Linked DNA regions of Homo sapiens. The protein of the gene in region 2 purifies or fractionates together with the protein of the main gene of each other region. This does not show direct contact. Each region holds a gene or a part of one and is shown on either strand. Other genes may lie near its edges.

Region 1 (3,592 bases), on a different chromosome or scaffold from region 2:
TGGGGATGCAGAGGGAAGACCTGGCTGCGAAGAACTGGCCAATGCTGCCACGTACAAGGATTTAAGACTAGTGCATCCCTAAAGAGCCTCAAGCTTGTAAAAGTTGGATCCACGAAGGCTGGGCACACAGAATTCGGGGTGGTCTACACGGTGTAGACACTTGTGGTCCACACGGTGTAGACACTTGTGGTCCACATCCAGGGGGAGAGGTCAGGCAGACATGAGGACTGCAGAAGATGTCACGATGACGCTGGCCGTGACAGTGAGCTCCCCGGTCTGTGGGTGTGGCTGGACAGATGGGGGTGAGGGCTGGGAAGAAGGACTAATGCCTAGAACTACACCTGGAAATTCAGCCATCCATCCACACAACACACACATACATTAAGGACCTGCTCTGTACTGACCTGGTCCCAAACCCAGAGCTAGAGAGGAATAAATAAGCCACAGTCCCTGTCCCCACAGAGCACATGATCCAGTGCAGAAAGCACTTGGCAGATGCTGGAACATAATGTGAAGAGATCCCACAGAGGATCCACTGGAAGCCACTGTGCCAGGCACGGGGAGGGCCGGGGAGGCTCCACAGAGGAACCAGAAAGCTGTGATGTGGAGGAAGGTCTGCGGGCCAAGTGGGGCCAGGGCACTTCCCAGAGGGAAAGGGGTTCAGGTTTGGGTTGGACCTAATGGACTGAGGCTGCTGAAGACGTGACATCAAGGCGGGAAGAAAGTAAAGCTGCAAAGTACTCCCATGGCCCCTGGGCATTTTCTTTTTAAAGAAACAAACACACGAGCTGCTGTATGCTTAGCAGCTAGCCGGTGGCAGATGTGAGCTGCCATCACTCACGGCTCCAAACTTTGGCCCAGGAGCTGCCATAAAGGCCTGGGCATTTGTACTGAGGTAGAAAGGGAGACACCTGCATTGCAGTGCCCTTTGTAACAGAAGGCCAAGACTGGGTCCACCTGACTCCCTAACCCTGCTGCAGAGAGGGGCTTTCTAGTCCCCACAGGCCGCTGCAAACGGCCATTCCACGCAGCCCCTTCCTGGCAAGAGTGATGGTTGGGCAGGGCAGAGGAGTGATCCCCTGCTGGCTCTGGTTTCAGAGCGGGGCGGTGCTGGGAGCCCATGCGGCGTCAGATTACAGCCTGACTCAGCACATCCTGAGGAGGCCAGGACAGTGAGGTCTGGGATGGAGGTGGGGGGAAGGGCCACCTTGCAAAGGTGCGAAGAGGCAGGTTTCATACATACAGGGTGGATGTAAATGGACACAAACTAGGTCAGTGGTCCCTAACAGTGCCCTTGGAAGAAAGGGAAGCACCCACCTCCCCAGGATATACACGTTCACACTTGCACTTCCAGAGACAAAACTGTCCAACTGTCCACCAAAAGAAGATCCATCCTTGGGACACCTCAGAGGAGCCCCCGGCTGACATGGCCACATGACCTATGGTACCTTCACCCTACAGAACACCATGAAGGAGCCAAAAAGAAATCCGAGGAGCGCCACGTGCAGAAGCAGAAAGAGCTCTGGGGGCGAGGGAGGCGGCAGAGCAGCACGGTGGCATGGGGCACTCGCTCCAGACCAGCCCTCCTGCCCACAGGCCTGGCTCCACAGTAAGCCAGCTAGGTGTCCCTGGGCAAGAAGGTTAACATCTCTGTGCCTCAGCTGCCTCCTCTGTAGGGTGTGGATAGTAAAAGCACCTACCTCACAGGGCATGGCAAATATCTTTCAAGTGCTCAGCCTAGTACCTGAGACACAGTATGGGCTCATCAAATGTCAGTGATGCATGCCACAAGGGGTGACACTTGTGAAAAAAAACAAAATAATACCATGTTCTGTATGAGAGTTTATGGGAATAGAGATGCTTGAGTACACACCCAGAAGACAATGTGGAAAGAAACATGTCGCACTTAAAATGCTGGTTACCTGGGTGGTTAGGAGGTATTATTTTAACTTCTCACCCAGAAAATGAGCACGTATAATGACATAATGAAAATCAGTTTCAAAACAAAGGAGGAAGAGCATAAGAGCTGATGGATATGTCATCCAGTTCCCCTCAGCCCCCCTGGGCCTCAAACCCCCTCCCCCCATAGGCCTGGAACATACTTCTCTGGCTTGGGCCCTTGGGACGGCAGACTGAGCCCAGCTTTACCTGGTGAATGATTCCAGATCCAGGCTTCCAGAAGCCCACGCCATATTTGGCACCTGCAGTTGCCAGGAAATTATAAACTTCCTGGTTGATGTCCTATTGAGACAAATCAATAATTGGGCGTTAGCAACATGGTTTGTGTCCAGGTGACCCTCACCAAGCCCTCCCCACCCCATCAGCCTCCCTTCTGACTCTGAAATACTGGCACTGGAGACAGGCCCTCTCTTAGAGACCTTCTAAAAATAATTCCAAAGAGCTTGGATGTTGGCCCAGTCTCCACTAGCAGTGTCAGAGAGAAGGACAGGGGAGCAGAGATGGAGCCCCAGTTCTGTGACACCTGGCCAGGGTGGTGGGTCTGGAACAAGTCCCTGCCCTGGTCTGGGTCTCAGTTTCCTTATCTGGAGAAGGGACTGGTCTAAATAATTGCCAAGAGTGCCTGTGGCACTCAAGTCCCCAGATGAGGCCAGCAGTGCAGAGGCAGGCCCTGGCCTAGGCGCAGTGGCTGGGTGCAGTGGCTCACGCCTGTAATCCCAACACTTTGGGAGGCTGAGGCAGGCAGATCACTTGAGGTCAGGAGTTCAAGACCAGCCTGGCCAACATGGCGAAACCCTGTCTCTACTAAAAATACAAAAATTAGCCAGGCATGGTAGTGCACACCTGTAATTCCAGTTACTCGGGAGGCTGAGGCACAAGAATTGGTTGAACCTGGGAGACAAGGATGCAATGAGCCGAGATCGTGCCACTGCACTCCAGCCTACAAGACAGAGCGAGACTGTCTCAAAAAATAAAAATAAGAATAAAATAAATAAAAATTAGCTGTGCACCTGCGGTCCCAGCTACTTGCAGGCCGAGGCAGGAAGATCACTTGAGCCCAGGAGTTCAAGGCTGCAATGAGCCGAGATCGCACCACTACACTCCAGCCTGAGTGACAGGGCAAGACCCTGCCTCAAAACAAAACAAAAACCCCAGAGGCTTTTTTTGAAATAACTTGCTGGAGATCCCAGGCTTAGACGACACCTGAGAGAGCCCCCTGGACTGGTGTCTGACTGTCGGAAGTGCTGAATTCTTGGTAATGTGTTTGATGGGCCCAAATGGAAGGCTGTCGAAGGGACCACTGTTCTGAAAAGGAGGTTTCAGCCAAACGAAATGATGACACGGGCTGTAGCCATCCTGCCTATAATCTGAAGGAAGCTTCCTTGAGGGACAGGGAAGGGCCCACTGCACAGCAGATGTGAGGCCAGGGTTTATCTGGAAGACATGGGAGGTCCCTGTGTGGGGTCAGTGAGACTGACCCCAGTAACAAAACGGTGGGATTCTAGTGGACTCTACTGAGTCTCAAAGGAGGAACTAGGAAATGGGACCTGCCAGCCTCCGGCATGGGAGAGCGATGCTTCAGAGAAGGGACCTCAGCCAGTGCCCTCGGACCCTTGATGAGATACACTCAAAC
Region 2 (4,950 bases):
TGACTTCTCCACCAGTAGAGCATGGGCACCTGCCTTCCTACACAGCTGAGGGGATGAAGCCCTGCCTTGCCTCACCGCCTCACCTCCTCTCCAATGCTCTGAGCAGACCCAGGCATCCTATGGTCATATGCTGATTCTGGTAACCAGTTTCAAGGATCAGGTTTGAGCTCCAAACTCTGGAATCTGGTATCTCCGCCAGGACCTGTGCTGATTTCTCTGTTGCCCTCACATCCCAACCTGCTCCCTGCTCTTCTCAGCCTTGCTCTGAGCTCTGGGGGACTGGTCTCCACAGACTGCATTACCCAGTCTCCCTTGCTGGCTGCTTCCACTGTTTGTTCAGTGGGAGGCAACAGCAGGCAACCAGAGGGCAGGTGGAGAGAGAGATCAGGTATTTCTTTCCCAATCCCTCCCTGCTTTTCAGCATTGGCTTCCCCATGTTGGGGGCAAAGACAGAGCTTTCACTGGACTCCTATAATGCTATTCCCTCGTTACTATGGTTTGAATATAGTTTGTCCCCAACAAAACTCATGTTGTGGCTTGGTCCCCAAATGTGGTGGTGGGAGGTGGTGCCTTTAAGAGTGAATAGGTTATTAAGATGGATTAATGTCTTTCTTGGGAAAGGTATAGTTCCCATGAGAGTGGGTTGTCATAAAGCGAGGTTTGCCTCTCTTGTTTTGCCCATTTTGCACATGCCCAGTTTTCCTTCTGTTTCTCCATTTGGATGTTTGGATGCAGCATGAGGCCCTCACTAGAAGCAGCTGCTCAATCTTGAACTTCCCAGCTTCCAGAACTGTGAGCTAAATAAACTTCTTTTCGTTATAAATTAGCCAGTTTCAAGTATTCTGTTCTAGCAACAGATAATGGACTATGATACTCCCCTTGACCCTTTAGGAGTAGAGGCTTCCCATTGCTGCTAATCTCTCGGTGCCTCAACATCCCTTATCTGTCCTTTTACTCTGCTCCCACCTCTGTAAGCAGTCCCTTCATTAAGGTCTTGAACCATCTGAGCTAGATTCTCGTCTGCTGGAACCCTGACTGATACAGAAACCAACCCCTTAAGTCCTCTTCTCCTGTCCCTTTCCTTCCCCCAGCCCTGCCCTCTGATAGCTGATGCCCAGACCTCACCATTAATCACAGGCGTGAAGACAGCCATCCCAGCAAAGTTGGGGTCTGAGACAGTCTTGTCCAAGATGAGGCCTCCCACACTATAGAGACATAAAGACAAAATGACGCAAAGACCACTGAAGGGTTCTGCCTTAGTCTCTGGGATGAGAGGTCCAGGCCCACCTATCCTTGGAGATGAAGGGAAGCACCATGGCTCTCAGGAGTTCCTCACCATCCAGTCCTTGCCTCCCTTGACAGGATTAGGTGCTGCTCATAACATTCTGACTGGGCACAGTGACTCCAGAACAAGCTGGTGGTACTGGGTCAGGCAACCACCTCCTGTACCTGCCCTCTAAGTTGGCCGGAGGAGCAGCCTGCAGGACTATCTGCCTCTGAGGACCTCTGTTGTTCTGCCCACTCAGCATTTACTTCCCTTTCTGGTGATAGCACTGGGCTCCTCCACAGGGAACCACCTCTCTCAAGCTCAGTGACTGTGGCTCAGGTGACAATGCCTCAATGATAGCTAGGCTCCAGGTCCATCCAATCAGAGGATTGCAGCCCCAAGGCCACGCTGACTGGTTTGGAGATAATCATGTCACCAGATGAGAAGCAGTGGAACTCTATTCTGGGACTTTGTGGAACTGTTGGGGGAAGAATCTCTCTTCCCACTGGAATTTGTAGGAGTAAGAAAAGCATAAACCTGGGCTGTAGGCCATGACAGAGAAGAGCAGAGCTAAGAGTCACAGAGTACTGGGGCCCTGATCTTAGGTATGTCGCTGAATTCAGCTGTGCCTTTTTGGTTCTCCAGGCCAATACATTCTGCCTTGGAATGAAACCCAGTTCAGATGGTTTCTGTCATTTTCAACAGAAGGACATGTGACTGAAACACTAATGAACACATTTCTAGGGTCTGACCCCCACCCCATCTCTCCAGGGTTTAAAAAGAAGTCTGTGGAAGGGTTGGAGTGGGGTAGGAGTGGATACTCAGGGCCCCAGCCTACCTGCTGATGGCCATGGCAATGATAACAGGCTCCCAGCCCGAGTACAACACCTCCCTTGTGGCTGGACTTCGTCGGGCCAGCACCACCCAGACAGGCAGCAGGGCCACAAAGAAAGCACACACCAGTGGGTAGATGTATCGCCAGTGATCTGAGAGGGCAGAGGTCAGAAGGAGATAAGCACTGTGTTTCCCTACCCTAAGTTTCTCCCTGGCTCAGCCTGAAAATGTCCCAACAGATCAATAGCAAGACTACACTAAATGCCAGTAAACACATTATCCCATTTGATCTTCACTGGCAGCTCAGGAGGTAGGTGGGACAAGCCTTTTCCATTTTATGGATGAGGAAACCAAGGGAGAGAGCTAGCCAGGCACTGAGCCAATTAGGGACAGAGACCAGAGGACAGAGACTCTAGGTCTCTTGATTGGAGCCCAGAAAACACCATCTCCCACCCGCTTCTTCATTTTGCAAGCAGATCTAAGCCTCTGGTTCCTTTCCTTTACCCTTTCCACCTCATCCCTCCAAGAGAAGTAAGAATCTGCAGGACCACACAGGAATATACTTCTGATACTTTTCCCCTGCCCCTGATGCCTGCTTGAATTTGAGATCAGTACTTAGCTTCAAATCTCTAAGATCAGGAATTATTACAACCTGTGTTCAAACCAAATAGTTTAAGAACACAGAAGAAACTCTTGCACATTTGCAAACTACTACCATCTCTCCCAACCCCACCCAGGACTCCAAGAAGCCACACTCTTGGTGGCTCACTCAGTTCCAGGTAGAGTCCCCAGCTGATGCCTGAGAGCAGCGCCAAGGTGATGAGGTCGCCCAGGCTGGCAGCAATGGGTGTGGCCACGTTGTCTGGGTTGATCCCAATCTTGCGAGAGCCAATGATGACTCCAATCATGATCATACCTGGTGAGCAAGTGGGAGGAGGGGCAGGCAGGGTGAGAAGAGATAAAGGAGTCTCAACAAACAAAAAGAGAGAGTGGAAGTGCCAGGTGCAGTGTTCTCTGGGGCGGCACTCCTTACTCCTCTATGCCCTCCCTTTCTTACCCAGTACCAGGGAGGCAATGAAGGCTGTGGCCACGCTGCTAGCACAGAGCAGGAAGGCGTGCGGAATACTGAAGTGGCCATCAGGGATCCAGCCAAAGACGACGGCTGCGATGGACGCCAGGAAGCCCACCACCGTGGCCTGCACCTGGGGACAGGAGTGGTAACTCAGAAAGCCCTGAGAGCAGTGGGCTTCCTAAGCTGAGGTCATAAGCATCTGGGCAGACCTCTTCCTGGCTGGCAGTAGCCCCAGGAGGCAGGCTGGACTGCATGGTCCAGTCCTCCCAGGCTGGAAGGATGTCTTTATTTATTTAGGTTCACACCAGCCACTAGTACTGGGCAGTGCACTCTGCAGGAGCCCAGAACATGTTACTGGCTGAATGAGTGTGCCTCTGGGGATGGGAGTGAGGTTCAACAGAGCCGGAGACTTCCACCCAGAGTCAAGGCCTGGGCCTCAAGGGGGAAGGCTCCCAGTCTGAACCTGTGTGGTCTCATGGGGAGATGGGACAGCAGTGGCACAGGACATCTCAGCACTCCTGAGTCTGCTCATATTGCCAGGATCTGCTGGGACTCAAAGGCACGTGCACCACCAAGAACTGAGAACCAGAATGGGTGATGCTGGGCCCTCCTCATCTTGGGCGTTTTCCTGGGTAACCTAGTTACCTCCTAGAGCTACTCTGGGGGAAGCCAGCTCAGTGGGATACTGGAGATTCACTCAGGAGCCTGCTGGGGCTGACCTAAGCCTTTCAGAGATTCCTGACTAAGGGGAAGCTTAGCCCACCCTCTCTGGTCCCTGCCTTCTTACCTGGATGAGGGCCATGTTCCCAGTGATCATCCGCCAGAGCTCCTTGGGTGTGTCCATGTGTCCAATGTTGGCCTGGGAAAGGGAGGGCAAGGGGCTGGAGCTTCAGGCTGGAAAAGGCCTGAAGCTCCATCCATTAGGCTCCTGCCTAGATCATGAGGCAGTACATGTGGCCTAAGACTCTGAGAGCAGGACCTGACAGTCCCGGAAAGGTGAAGCAGGATCAGGGAAACTGAGGTGAAAGGGAAGGAGCTAAAGCTGGGCTCCTGCAGCTGGGTGGGGGGTTGGAAGGGGGTCCCCTAGGCAGTCGCCTCTCTTCCTCTCAGGACACCAGCTGAGCAGAGGCAAATTCTATCCTTTGCCCTGCTTATCTGGGCAGCCCATTCCTGCATGGGTCAGAACAACCCAGTCCCTGACTCTGAAGCCAGCCTGCGATCCCAGGGAAGGAAAGGTCAGCTGCTGGTGCAGGACTGAGGCTCCAAGAGTATTTGGGAAGGAGTGGGTGGCATGGGCCAGAAGTCGGGTATGGCAAGTCAGGGTGGGTTAACTTGGATGCCACTTCTGTCTGTCACCTTCTCTAGACTCTTGACCCTGCAGGGAGATCCCTGGCCTCCTGAGTTTTATCATCTCCCACCTCCAGCCCAGGGCCCTGTATCTGTTCAGGCCCGGAATCGTCACGGCTCACAACTGTGGGAGGTAGGAATGACGAGCAGCTCCTCTCTGTCTGTTTCCTTAAAGAAGAGCAAGCTGCCATGGGTAAAGGGAATGGGATGGCCGGGGGGCTGGGGGTGCTGGGAGGGCCTGGCTCTGCTCCCGCCCAGCTGCAAAGCAGGGGCTGGAGATCAGAGGAGGCCCCCATCTGTGCGGGTGGAGGAACCAGCATGATGCCTGCCTGTCAAAGCTGCACAAACAGTCACGAGGTGGTTGAGAGGTAGGGGGTGGGGCAGGAGTCCAGGGGTGGCTGGGACATCCAGAAACCAAGCCTGGGAACCA
Region 3 (2,469 bases), on a different chromosome or scaffold from region 2:
CCCCGTCTCTACTAAAAATACAGAAATTAAGCAAGCATGGTGGCACATGCCTGTGGTCCCAGCTACTCAGGAGGCTGAGGTGGGAGGCTTGCTTGAACACAGGAGGGGGAGGCTGCAGTGAGCTGAGATCATGCCACTGCACTCAAGCATGGGCGACGGAGCGAGGCTGTCTCAAAAAGAAAAAACAAAAAGCAGACTTTACTTACTCTAAAGAGGATATAATGGAGTTCAGAATGTGACTTTCCAATCAGGGGAGCACCAAGCAAGAGCTGCAGGGGGCAACGTGAATGGAGGGCTTGGCCAGGAGGGCCTCCCACCACCACCTCAGCTCACCAGGCTGACGTGAAAACCCCAAGGAGATGCGTCATTTTTTGACCAACCGTGTAAAGTTGTGACTGGATGTCCTAAAACAAACTGCCACACAAGGACTAGGGCAGTGAGAGACATTTCAAGTTAAATGCTAAAGTTTCCTCAGATAAGGTCTTCCACATCACACAAGAAGCTATTGCACATCACTCCTTTATTATACTGATATGGAAAAAGGATTTAGTACAGTTATGCTCAGATGAACACTGGACCCATGTGGCAGGGTCAAGCAACTAGAACATGATTCAGAAATCAGTGAAAGATACACTTGGACAGGACCAAGAGGCATTTCACTGCCATGAAACAAGGCAGGAAGGGATTCTAATACACACACCAGGAAGCACTCCTGCCCCTCAGAGGTCAAGGAGCTGATCCTATATTGGTATGAGGAATGGCTTATTTTCTGATGACCACATGTGGGACTATTTCAACCGCCACAAGAAACCCCAGAAGGGTTATTGTTTTGTATTATATATACTATACTTTTTTAATAAAAGTAAATTAACACATAACGAAATTCAGGATTGATCCCAACCTAGAGCCAGATCCTCTGGGGTCAGGGAGGAAACAGTTGTCACATCACCACGCAGGTTACATTCGTCTTCCACTGGAATGACTAGAGCCCCCAGGCAGTAGGCAGTGACCTGACTGCAGAAGAGCAGAGGACAGACTCCGCTCATGGGGACAGACAGGCTCTGTTGCTTCTCCTCACTGGTCATGGCTTAGCATGGTTCCTCCCCAAAGTCCTTAGTAAACAAAGCACTCGCAAAAACCCAAGTCACTACTTTTAAACTCTGTTGGATAAGGGGAGCTTTTCCATAGCTTAGACTGAGAACCTGTGCTCTAGAACTGCTATTCTGACTAGATTGTATGAAGGGAGTGGGTGCAGGCGACAAAATGGCTAAAATGAAAATGGGAGCCACTGGTCCCCGTCTGCAGCTACAACTCAAGATGTCTACAGATGTGGTCAGTGTGACATGTGCAGGTGGGAGGGGCAGAGGGACAAGACGGGCAGGGAGGGTGCTCCTGGGGACAGTATCCTCCCCGCCGGCCTTCACTTCTTGGCCTTGCCCTGGGCAGCCACAGCTTCCATGGCTTTGCGCACCGTCTCTTCATCCCCCAGAAACTGCATGGGCTTGATAGGCTTCAAGTTCTTGTCCAATTCATAGACAATGGGAATACCAGTCGGCAGGTTCAGCTCCATGATAGCCTCTTCAGAGAGACCTGAAAACATCCACCATCATCAGCCACACAAGACATAAATCCACATCACCCCTCCAGGTTTACTTTGTCCTCCAGGTGATAAAGGACTTTGACAGAAATTAAAATAAGACACCCTTTCTGATCTTTATAGTAGTTCTGAACCCAGGGAATGGCCCCCACCATACTTATTTCTCAGCCATTAAACTGAAAAGCAAGAAAAGGTATACAAGATAGACCACCAACAAACTACAGCAAGGTATATGGCCAGATATCTCTACCAAAGTGGGATCTAGAAGCCCACAGTGAAGCAAGACTACACATCTCAAATACCCTGTACAGCCCATCCAACCAAAAATCAGCACACGTGGGCCTCTAGGCCCTCGGGGATGAAGATGCAAATTGAGATTCATGTGTAAAGTTGTGCCTGGTTGTGACTAAGGAGAATTTTTTCTTTTATATATATTTGTTTTCCTTTTTTTTTTTTTTAAGAGACAAGGTCTTACTCTCTCACCCAGGCTAGAATGTAGTGGCACAATCATACCTCACTATAACCTCAAACTGCTGGGCTCAAGCGATCTCCCGCCTCAGCCTCCTGAGTAGCTGGGACTACAGATGAGCATCACCACATCAAGCTAATTTTTCATTTTTCTTTTGTACAGACAAGGTCTTGCTTTGTTGCTCAGGCTGGTTTTGAACTCCTGGCCTCCCAAGGTGCTGATAGTACAGGCATGAACCACTGTGCTTGGCCTTTTAAAATTTTGTAGAGATGCAGTCTTACTATGTTGCCCAGGCTGTCTCAAACTCCTGGCCTCAAGTGGTCCTCCTGCCTTGGCCTCCCAAAATGTTGCAATTACAGGCATGAGCCACTGTGCTTGGCAAGCTAAGGAGGATTTTCACTAG
Region 4 (4,295 bases), on a different chromosome or scaffold from region 2:
TACTGGTACATTTTGTACTTTGTTTTAGGAAGGTAGGTTATTTACCTATGTCTATCTCAGAAGATAGCAAGTTTTTGACTCTTGGAGGTGTGTAAGCAGACTTGGGAACAACTTGACAAGAGATAACATGAAGAGGGTTGGTTGGATTAGAGAGGCAATTCCCCAAGATGGCCTTAGGACAGGCTGACTCTATGTTATCTGGAGAGTTCTATTTGAAAATAAATAAAATACAGAATCCAGGGACCCCCTCCTTAGAAATTCTCATACAGAATCCAACAGAGTCTGTCAGAATCTGTATATCTGAAAGGCAGCTCAAGTGATTTTGAGGTGCAGCCAAGTTTGGGAACCACTGAAAATATAACCCTCAGCATTCTAGCAGCCCTGAGGTTCCAGGATTGCTTGTGTGAGTACAGGATAAACGCTACTCTGCCTTACATATTAGCTTCAGACCATTCACAGAGATAGATGCCTATTGAAAGAACCACTTCAAACTAACAGCATCTCTCCCCCAAGAACATTTGCTTCATGACTGCTTTCCAAACCCACTCCTAGCCCGGGTGAGCACCCACAGCTTTAATCCTGTTACCTTCACAGTATAGAGTGTGTATGGGTGGAATCCAGTGCCACTGTGCTCTCGGGCTGTAATGGTGCCAGTGATACGAAGGTTCTGGATGATAACTGGACCATCGGGACTGCTTAGGGGCTCAAAGCTGAAGGTGGCTGAGCTGAGAGGACCAGGTGGAGAGGAGGAAAGCAGAACTGGTGGCAGAGTAGGATCAAGGGAGCTCACATCATTGGTGAGATCCTTCTCTAAGCATGACGGCCGTGAGGGGCAGGTCTTTTCTGGCCCCTCCAGCAAAGCTGTAACAGAGGCGGTAACATCTCCTTGTTCTATCTCCTTGTCTGCTGTGTCAATATGGATCTCTGGGCAGGAATTCAGTGTGGAGACCGGCAGGCCTGTCTCTGTTTCTGTCCCTGGACCCTCCTCAGCCTCTGCTCCTTCAGATGCCTCACCATCTTTGGGTTCCAGAGCCTGGGAACTCTCTAGGGCACACAGGGCATCCTGAATCCTGTCAGAGAGAAAGCTGCCTGGAGTCATGAGCATGATGGTTTCTTTGCCCAGTTCAGACAGCGGAGACTCCAGCTCTGAGTCTTCACATAAGAACAGGGGACCTCGAACATTTGGCTGTAGGAAATGAGATGAGTTGTTTCCTACTTTTCTTTCTTCACACATCCCACCCAAATCTCCCTCTACAGCTTCGTGGCCTTCTTCAACCTCTGGAGAGGGGCCTGCAGAACCCTCTGGCTCACTGTAACTTAGGAATACTGGGGCTGCTACTGGAGAAGCTCTCCCTTCTGGAAGCTGCTCTACCTCAGCAATCAGTGGCAGAGATGTCGGCACTGAGGGCTGTTCGGGGGCACTGGCTGGGCAGGGTGCTGGATCTCTGGCCTTGGAAAAGATACCCACGAGTACAAGGTGGATCCAGTCAGGATCTGACAGCCTGCTGATCAGTGGTAAGATTACATTGCATGTGATGAGTTCGACCACTACATGGCGTCCGGTACGAGTCTCCAAGTGGGGCTTGGGCACCAGCCCTTGAAGCAACAAATTCACAACGCCACGCGTATAGGTGACTTCAGCACTGGGGCTGTGCACAGCAGGATGTGGGGCAGTCGCCCGGCAGTAAGCCTCCCAGAGGTGGGAAGGCTCAACTGGACCATTCTTCCCTGCAGTGGCCTCCTTTGCCTGAATGTAGCTCTGCAGGTGACAACCGCAGAGAGTCAGAACACTCTGGGCAACAGCATGACTGTCCATCACGCTCATCCTTCTCCGAAGCTCCTGGACCAACCCTTTCATGGCTGCCTCCATTTCTTCCTCAAAGGCTGGCTCCTGGCTCACGGAACGGTACCAAGATAACACAAAATCTCGAATAATCATCTGGATGGTGCGGTTGATCTCCCGTTCCAGCTGCCTTTCTGCCTCAGGGCATGGAGGACAGGTGGCCAACGGGATGAAGCGTTCCAGATGCAGTCGACCTGAAGCCACTCCAGCGAGGCTGGAGCCCAGCCATCCTCCCAGCACCACTAGCAATGCCGACAGAAGGCACAGCAGCCACACGTTGACCAGAAGGTGTATGACCAGGAGCCAGCCAAGCAAGACCCCCACAGCCATCAGCTTCCGGCTACTCAACAGGTTATTGAGGTGACAGCTCGATCCAGCTGGAGTTTCCTGGAACGGTGGCACTGTTTCTGTCTTCATGGCTGAACGGACAAGGTGGCTTCCCCAGATGACAGCCCTCAAGATTTTACTTCAGAGTTAGGGAAGGGGGGCATGAACTGTGTCTCAGATATGGGGCGATCTGGGTGCTGTTCAGGGAACCGGGGCTCCAGGCCCTCAAAGTCCTACAGGCACTGCAAAGCGACAGCTGCAGCTCCGCGTCTCCCCATGGCTACCACTAACAGAGCCCTCCAACTCGCCCCTTCCAGCTGAGGTGTGGCTTTGGAGGAAAACTCTGTGGCCTTCACACTGCCCCAGGCGGAAGGCCTCTTCGGGGCCTCGGGGCGGGCGCTGCAAGGCCCTGGGGCCCACGGACACTTACACACGCAGCGGGCAGCGGCCGGCGAAGACTGGGTCACACGCCGCCGGGAACCGCGCGCCCACACTCAGCCCCGACCTGAAGTGGACTCATCGCGGTCCTCTCCGGGAGCCTCGGCCCTCTGCCGCCGTAAACCTGGGCGACTGCGCTCCGCAGCCGGGCCTGTGTGAAGGCTGACCGCCGGCCGGCCGCCGGCGACAGCTTCCGGGTCGACGTCGACGGGAGCGAGGCATGCTGGGAGAGCGTCCGCGCGCGCCCCGAGGAGCGGCGCTGCCCGGCGCCCTCTGCTGGCGAGGAGCCGCCCTGACGGCCCTGCGCGAGGTAGTCTCTGAGCCTGAGCGTGAGCCTGAGCGCGCACGGGGCGCGTGCTCGCCAAGAGCTGGCGCAGATTTCCGAAGTGCCACGAAACAGCCGCCGCAGCAATCACCGCTAAGACCCAGACTTCCAGGCGCTTTAAAACGCGTCCTAGTTCTGGTTATTAAATGAAGCCTGTCCTTTACTGCTTAGGCACGCTGTCAATAATCCGGTTTATTTTAATTTCATGGAGGCGAAGTTTCATTGGCCTGATGTGTCTTAACATTTATCCGGTTTCCCCTAGAGCCGGTACCCCGCGTCCCCAGCACAAAGACCCTCATTTGTTGTCAGGAATTGCAGAATATAAGGCATGAAACGATACAGAGATAGATTTATGTTGTACATTTCATATACTGTATCACAAAATCAAATTTGTGATTGAGGGTTATTTGCTGGTGGCATTACACAAACAATCAAATATTTTGAGCATCTGCTGTCTTCAATGTGAGAGGCAGCGTGGACGAATAGAAGCAGACCTTGTCCTCCAGGACCTCCTGCTAACTGGGGATGCCAGCGCTTTGAACGCGATTGGCTATCTAGTAATGCCAGTCAGCGTGCGATATAGTAAAATACAAAATCTTATAGGAATTCAGGGGAAGGAGAGATCACTGTGGGTTGCAATGGTTAAGGAGAAGCTCACAGAAAAGGTGCCTTTCTGCTGAGTCTTCAAGGATGAGGGTTTCTATTTCCCTCTATCTCTTCTCGCCTTATCCTCCCCAAAAACATAGAAAAGGAAAGCAGAGATAGAGGTGTCCTTTCAGATAATCCTGTAATATATTTGCTTTGGAATATGCTCTATGTTGGATTGTTTTTGGTTTTAGCAAATTAGACTTCACTTGTCTACACAGGAACCTATAGGAAGACAAAATACCGGAAGCACTGACCAGGTGTCAAAAGTGTTAGTGTCAGTTTTGCGTGAAGCCAGCTTCCATGTCCACCTTGGGCCCTAGGAGCTGTGCCCGCAGGGTGGGTCTCCTTTCCATTTAGGCATAGGATTCGCATCGTTTGCACAGAGCTGCTCATGGTTGCCCTTCGTCCACCTTCTCTGTGCTGTGAGCAGTCTTTCATCATCATGGACTACTCCCTAGATGTTTAAAGGAATCTTCAAACAAATCCCAACCCAAAACTCTGCCAACAAGAAGTGCGTTGCAGCTTCCTGTCTCGTCCATTGCTGCTGTTGGGGCAGAGACTTCCTTTGAATACGAAAGAAGCCATCATTTAGATGTGACCCGTAGTTTACGATTCATCACTTCTAAAGCAAATGGTTTGATTTAGGATCAGTGTCCACTAAGCAGACTGGGCACTCCCGTGAGATGGCAGAATGTGAATCCACGGTTTCACGGT

The links. Proteins that work in one complex are often made in the same cells at the same time.
Region 1: the proteins of SLC41A1 (region 2) and ACO2 purify together in Homo sapiens (affinity purification with mass spectrometry; one large-scale study listed by BioGRID and IntAct). This does not show direct contact.
Region 3: the proteins of SLC41A1 (region 2) and PGAM1 purify together in Homo sapiens (affinity purification with mass spectrometry; one large-scale study listed by BioGRID and IntAct). This does not show direct contact.
Region 4: the proteins of SLC41A1 (region 2) and SNX19 purify together in Homo sapiens (affinity purification with mass spectrometry; one large-scale study listed by BioGRID and IntAct). This does not show direct contact.

The regions. Positions count from the first base shown.
Region 1 is NC_000022.11:41,510,525-41,514,116, reverse strand, and holds part of ACO2 (aconitate hydratase, mitochondrial precursor), read right to left. Parts: intron 2,242-3,592; coding exon 2,149-2,241; intron 1-2,148. UniProt on the Homo sapiens protein: Catalyzes the isomerization of citrate to isocitrate via cis-aconitate.
Region 2 is NC_000001.11:205,795,799-205,800,748, forward strand, and holds part of SLC41A1 (solute carrier family 41 member 1), read right to left. Parts: intron 4,033-4,950; coding exon 3,961-4,032; intron 3,304-3,960; coding exon 3,159-3,303; intron 3,018-3,158; coding exon 2,871-3,017; intron 2,254-2,870; coding exon 2,106-2,253; intron 1,206-2,105; coding exon 1,126-1,205; intron 1-1,125. UniProt on the Homo sapiens protein: Na(+)/Mg(2+) ion exchanger that acts as a predominant Mg(2+) efflux system at the plasma membrane.
Region 3 is NC_000010.11:97,431,476-97,433,944, reverse strand, and holds the end of PGAM1 (phosphoglycerate mutase 1), read right to left. Parts: intron 1,591-2,469; coding exon 1,421-1,590; 3' UTR 501-1,420; downstream 1-500. UniProt on the Homo sapiens protein: Catalyzes the interconversion of 2-phosphoglycerate and 3-phosphoglyceratea crucial step in glycolysis, by using 2,3-bisphosphoglycerate. Also catalyzes the interconversion of (2R)-2,3-bisphosphoglycerate and (2R)-3-phospho-glyceroyl phosphate.
Region 4 is NC_000011.10:130,913,680-130,917,974, forward strand, and holds the start of SNX19 (sorting nexin-19), read right to left. Parts: upstream 2,801-4,295; 5' UTR 2,261-2,800; coding exon 587-2,260; intron 1-586. UniProt on the Homo sapiens protein: Plays a role in intracellular vesicle trafficking and exocytosis. May play a role in maintaining insulin-containing dense core vesicles in pancreatic beta-cells and in preventing their degradation. May play a role in insulin secretion.